2 separate regions of the Homo sapiens genome follow, and region 2 is linked to region 1. The links come from fine-mapping of genetic effects on plasma protein levels. Region 1 holds a variant in brackets. A gene starts in the other region. All regions are shown on their reverse strands.

Evidence for each region. PIP is the chance, under the fine-mapping model, that this variant and not a neighbour inherited with it causes the effect. The UK Biobank Pharma Proteomics Project read protein levels with antibody pairs (Olink). The fine-mapping took linkage between variants from a reference panel, not from the people measured, so its PIPs are less certain.
Region 2: it holds the start of NPTX1, and the variant in region 1 is fine-mapped to the plasma level of the NPTX1 protein (UK Biobank, PIP above 0.99).

Annotation. Positions count from the first base shown.
Region 1 is chr4:87,057,074-87,059,573 of GRCh38, reverse strand. All of the region lies in intron 4 of AFF1 (ALF transcription elongation factor 1), which reads right to left. Among named protein-coding and RNA genes, the nearest start is that of AFF1, 120 kb to the right of the region's middle. RefSeq lists an enhancer at 752-841. The variant T/C (reference allele first, on the strand shown) is at 1,514.
Region 2 is chr17:80,474,786-80,477,791 of GRCh38, reverse strand. NPTX1 (neuronal pentraxin 1) reads left to right here and starts at 1,185. Exons shown (of 5, transcript NM_002522.4): 1 at 1,185-1,789; 2 at 2,074-2,281. The coding sequence starts at 1,346. RefSeq lists an enhancer at 2,198-2,731.

The sequences.
Region 1 (2,500 bases):
ATCAAATCACTCATGTGAAATAATGTGGCATACTGAGAAGCAGGAAAACAGCAAGATGAGAGGTTAGAAAGAAGTTGTAACAGTTCAAGAAAGACGGTAAAAATCCATACTAAATGAGGGACAGAGAAAAGGAGAAGCTATGAATGTTTATAAAGTAATCTCCATAGGATCAAGCTGCTTTCAAAACAATGGAGTATATGACAGAAAGGAATTGAGAACTGATGACCAGGAGGAAGGAGAACATTCTGTGTGTGAAGTGATACAGGGAGAGGGGGGCACAAAAAAATCCATTTTAGACAGGTTCAATTAAGATGCCTGTGCAACACCTACTAGAAAAGTCCAGTGGGCAGGTGGATAACAGAACCTAGATCTCAAAATACGTTTTAAGAGTTTTAGGCTAGAAAATCACTCTGGTGTTCGTGAGCAACGGCAGTTGAATCTTAAGTGCAAATGAGGTCACCAGGGAAAGGCTGCAGAATGAGAAAAGATGGTTGAGGACAGAGCCCTGGAGGAGGAGTGGGAACAGCAGCCTCCAAAGGAGATTAAGGCACGTACAAAAAGGTAGAAGAAAACCCAGACAACAGGGGAGGAGAGTGTTTAAGGTGATGGTGGTCAAGTGTCAAATGCTACAGAGATGTCAAGTAGGATAAGGCCTTAAAGAGCATTCCTCGAATTCATCCAATACAGTCCACTAGTGGCTCCTGCCGGCAGAGGCAGTGGCGTGAAGGCACAGAGCAGGCTGCAATGGGTTGCAAGTAGAGGGGAGGGGAGGAGAGGAAGCAGGAACAGTGTTTACCTACTTCTGTCTCCAGAGCTTTTGCTGTGGAGGGAACAAGAAAGTAGTAATTAGAGAAGACACAAGAGTGAAGAAGGGTTTGTTTTGCTCTTTCAGTTGGGAAAGGCCTAAATGTAACTATAGACTATCATGAAAGAGCTGAGTAATAAGGGAAAGGTTTAAGCTAACCAAAGGTTGAGAGTGGGGGAGTTGAGAACACCTCCTTCTGTGAGATTAAACAGAAAGAGACAAATGGTGGCTGCTATGATTTGGGGGCGGGGGTGGCACTGTAGGTAGAAAGAACTGAGAGAATTCATACCTGGTGCTTCCTTCTCTGAAAGGTAGGAAGCAAAGTTAAAGGTCTCAGTGCAAGCCACATGGCCACGAAGACCAAAACTGAGTTTTACTCATCCTGTCATTTGAATCACCCGTGCCACCCTATATTTGCATGACTCATCAGATGCCAACATGAAAGCAAGGCCATGTGGAAAAACAGCACACTTTAAATAAAAGTGTACATAAGCCATCATTACTCCACAGAAACCATGTTTTGTGGCAGATGGAGCGCTGGAACTAGGAGCCAGGGTCCAGGTTTCATGTCTCCATCTCTGCCATTTACTAGCTTAAATTAAATTTAGAGACTCAGTTCCACGGCATGTAAAATGGTGACTCCTGCCAACTGCCATACTTAACTCACAAGGTTACTGTGATAATCAAGAGAGAAACAAATAAGTGCTT[T/C]GGAAATTAAAGGGGAAAGGGCACTACAAGATTTTAGAGTGCGTACATTTTTATAAAGTGAACTGTTTACACCAGAGATTGCCAAGCCACGGGAATGCTGCTGTTCAGGAGTGAGCTCACAGAGCAACTAAGCCATCAGGCAGGGGTGGGGATGGTGGGCGGGGGGATGTTGAAGACAGCGGTGGGGGTTTAACACCATGGCAAACCCATTCTTAAAAGCTTGATAACCCCTAAGGAAATACTTTCTTTCACTAGGCTTTTCATTTGTTTACTTATTTTTAATACTTTAAAATCAAGTCTTAGGGGCTTTATTCACTTAGAACTCTTAACTGGGAATTAATGGTCCACTTGATCTAATTCCAACTTCATTTCTAAAGTACATTTCAATAAACAATACGATCAGTCTTCCTAACTCCCCAACATCACTAATTCCCCATTTTGATAACCCTCTGTCCAAATTCTTTTTCTTAAGGCCCAGTTCAAATTTCACTTCTACCACTACCAAGAGTTCCATAGTAGGAGTATGGAACTCATACTATGCACAAGGCACTGTCTTAAGTAATTCAAAGATTACCTCAGTATATTAGACCCACTTTACTTACAGACGAATAAACTGGTAACACAGGAAGGTTAGGTTCCTTGCCCAAAGTCTTACAGAATTATAAGCCCAAGCTGTACCACCTGCCATGAAGCCAAAATAATTCTCCGCCTTTTATTAATGATTCTTGTTTTTATCTAAATTACTCAATAAATAACTAAAGAATTTCAAAAGCTGGCCCTATCTTGCCACCAGGCCCATCTCCCCACTGCTCTCCTCTGCCCATGCCCAACCTCCTGGAGCCACAGGCCCTGCCACTCCCACTAGATTTCCCTCCGTGTCTTGCTTCTATGTCTTTTCTCTTCCTAAGCCTTTAGCCTGGATGTACCTTTCACCAGAGTGCAAAGTGCTTCAAAAGTCAACTCTTAAAAAAAAAATGTACAGCTTCT
Region 2 (3,006 bases), not on the chromosome of region 1:
GACCGCTCTGATAGCCCCGGGGCGGGGCGGGGCGGGGCGGCTGCGCCAGCCCTGGTCCTGAGCCCCCAGCCCGGCGCCGGAACCCGGACCGCGATCTCGGGAGCCGAGCCCCGCGGTCCAGATGAAGGCGCGAGTGCGCGGGTGCCGGGTGGGGTGTCTGAGCGAGAGCGGAGCTTCTCAGGTGGACGCCCCCAGCCACCTCCGGGACCCTTCCTGCTGGCCTTTGGGCCTGAGAAGTGGGCGCGGCTGGACAGACGGGAAACAGCCCCCCACGCACAGGTGGACACCCGGGGATACCGGGCGCGCGCGGCGCCTGGCAAGGGGAAGCTGCTGGAGACGCGGGCGGCTGCTCCCGCGGGGCCCCCTTCCGAAGCGCCGCTGCGAACGTCCAGCCCCGGCGACGCCGCCTGCCCGCGATCGGGCCGGCGCCGCGGACAGGAAAGGCTCGATCAGCTAGGTCTGCCTCCGAGAAGTCCCCAGCGCCCCGCCCGCACGGGGTGGGGACTGACAGTCCCCCGGGGACGGGGCCGGGTCCACAGAGCCCGGGAGCTGGGGGAGGGGAGGCGCCGGGGGCCCCGACCCGTGGGAAGTCCCTGTACCCAGGCTGCCCGGCGGCTTCTCAATAGCACACGGACATCTAAGAAACGCGGGGCGGCCCGGTGACCCCCGCTCTGGACTTAGTGGCGCCGCGAGGCCCCACTCCGAGCCGTTGACCACCGGGCACTCGGGTGTTGACGACCTGGGTCCTTGGGCACCCAGCCCGGCTCCAAACGACCCCGGCCCAAGGGTGTTCAGTGCAGCCAGGAGGGCCGAACCGAATTCTATCTCCCGGACGCGGTGGTTTCCCGCCCGCCTGGAGCCCCGTCGGAGGTTCGGGGACACCACGCAGGTGGTCCATCCTCGAGTCCGGGGCCGGAGCCCGACTTCCTTCCCCCTGAGCTCTCGGAGCCTTCGGGGCAGCAGCGCCGGCCCAGGCGGGGGCGGGGGAGGAGGGGGCCGCGGCAGCTCCCAGAAGGGCGGGGGGGACGCGAGCGGAGGCAGCCCCGGTGGCGCGCTCGTGAGACCCCCGCCGCGCCGCGGGCCCGGGCCGCGGACAATTAAAGCGGGATTCCTCCCCCGCTGACGTCGGCGGCTCGAGGCCCCTCCCGCGGCGGCATAAAAGGCGCGGGCTCCGCAGCGCAGGCGGCAGTGGGGGCCTGATAGCGCGGCGGTGTGGACCGCGCGGCCGAAGAGCGCGGCGCCCAGAGCGCGGGCCGCTCGCGGAGCCACAGCCCGAGCCGGGTCCCAGCCGGAGCCGAGCCCCAGCCGAGCCGAGCCGGGCCCGGAGCGCCCGGTGCCCGCAGCCATGCCGGCCGGCCGCGCCGCGCGCACCTGTGCGCTGCTCGCCCTCTGCCTCCTGGGCGCCGGGGCCCAGGATTTCGGGCCGACGCGCTTCATCTGCACCTCGGTGCCCGTGGACGCCGACATGTGCGCCGCGTCCGTGGCCGCCGGCGGCGCCGAGGAGCTCCGGAGCAGCGTGCTGCAGCTCCGCGAGACGGTGCTGCAGCAGAAGGAGACCATCCTGAGCCAGAAGGAGACCATCCGCGAGCTGACCGCCAAGCTGGGCCGCTGCGAGAGCCAGAGCACGCTGGACCCCGGAGCCGGCGAGGCCCGGGCGGGCGGCGGCCGCAAGCAGCCCGGCTCGGGCAAGAACACCATGGGCGACCTGTCCCGGACACCGGCCGCCGAGACGCTCAGCCAACTCGGGCAAACTTTGCAATCGCTCAAAACCCGCCTGGAGAACCTCGAGGTCCGCGCGCGCCCTCGGCTCCGGTTCCCCCTCCGGCTCGCTCGCCCCTCTGCCCTCCCCCACCCCGTTCCCTACCCGGCCAGGCATCCCCCGCCCTCGCCTCAGCCGCGCGGGTGCCCGGCCGGTGCCTCCCCGCGCCTGCGAGGCCCCGCGGCGGCCACTCGCCCCAGCTCCCTGCCAGGCCGCCCCCGCAGTCGCCCAGAGGGGACCGCGCCGCGGGCCTTCCAGCACGGTCCCCGCGCCTCGCCTAACGGTGTGGTTTCCCCCGCCCTTGCACCCCGCAGCAGTACAGCCGCCTCAATTCCTCCAGCCAGACCAACAGCCTCAAGGATCTGCTGCAGAGCAAGATCGATGAGCTGGAGAGGCAGGTGCTGTCCCGGGTGAACACCCTGGAGGAGGGCAAGGGGGGCCCCAGGAACGACACCGAGGAGAGGGTCAAGATCGAGACCGCCCTGACCTCCCTGCACCAGCGGATCAGCGAGCTCGAGAAAGGTACTGGGGCCAGGGGGAGCCGTGCTGCCTGCCTGCACCTGCTTGCCCGACCCTGCCTCGGTCCCGATCCCTAACAGCCCAGCTCTGCACTGTGCAAGCCTCAAGCCGCTCCGCTACCCCCAACCCCTGCACCGCTTTCTCATTCCCCGCACCCCTTCCCAGGTTCTGGGCTTCTAGTCGGTGTTTCTATCAGGGCTGGGTGCCTTGGGCTGGGGCTGTCTCTGGGAAAGGGGATTGCATAGTGCCCCCTCCCCCATCCAGACACACTCACACACTCGCTGGATTTTTCAAGTCTGATTTGTTTAATCCTCAGTAACTTTGCACAGTGGCTGTCGCTGGCTCAAACCCTCCCTGCTTAAGAAAGCCTGTCTCTCCCTGGTCCCCAGCCTCAGCGTACAGCTGGGTGCAGGCTGGGGCTGGGCGCTCTCGTTCCCCGGGCCGCTGAGGCTGTTAAGCAGGTTTCTTCCCGGCTGCCATGCCCCCGGTGTCCTCTCAGGATCTCCAGCTCCTCCCCACTTCTGTCCTGAACCCCTACCCTGAGGTTTTCTTTTCTGAGTGACCCAAGTCCTGGCATCTTTCAAATCCCTGAGGTTTCTCAGTCACCAACTCAGGCCAGCCAGTCTATCACCCAGGGCGCCTGGATGAGCGCTGGAGGCTCTGTCTTGAAGTCGCAGAAATCAAACAAGGTTGTAAAAGGGGAGGGGGGGGGGTGCCCGGTGCGGAGC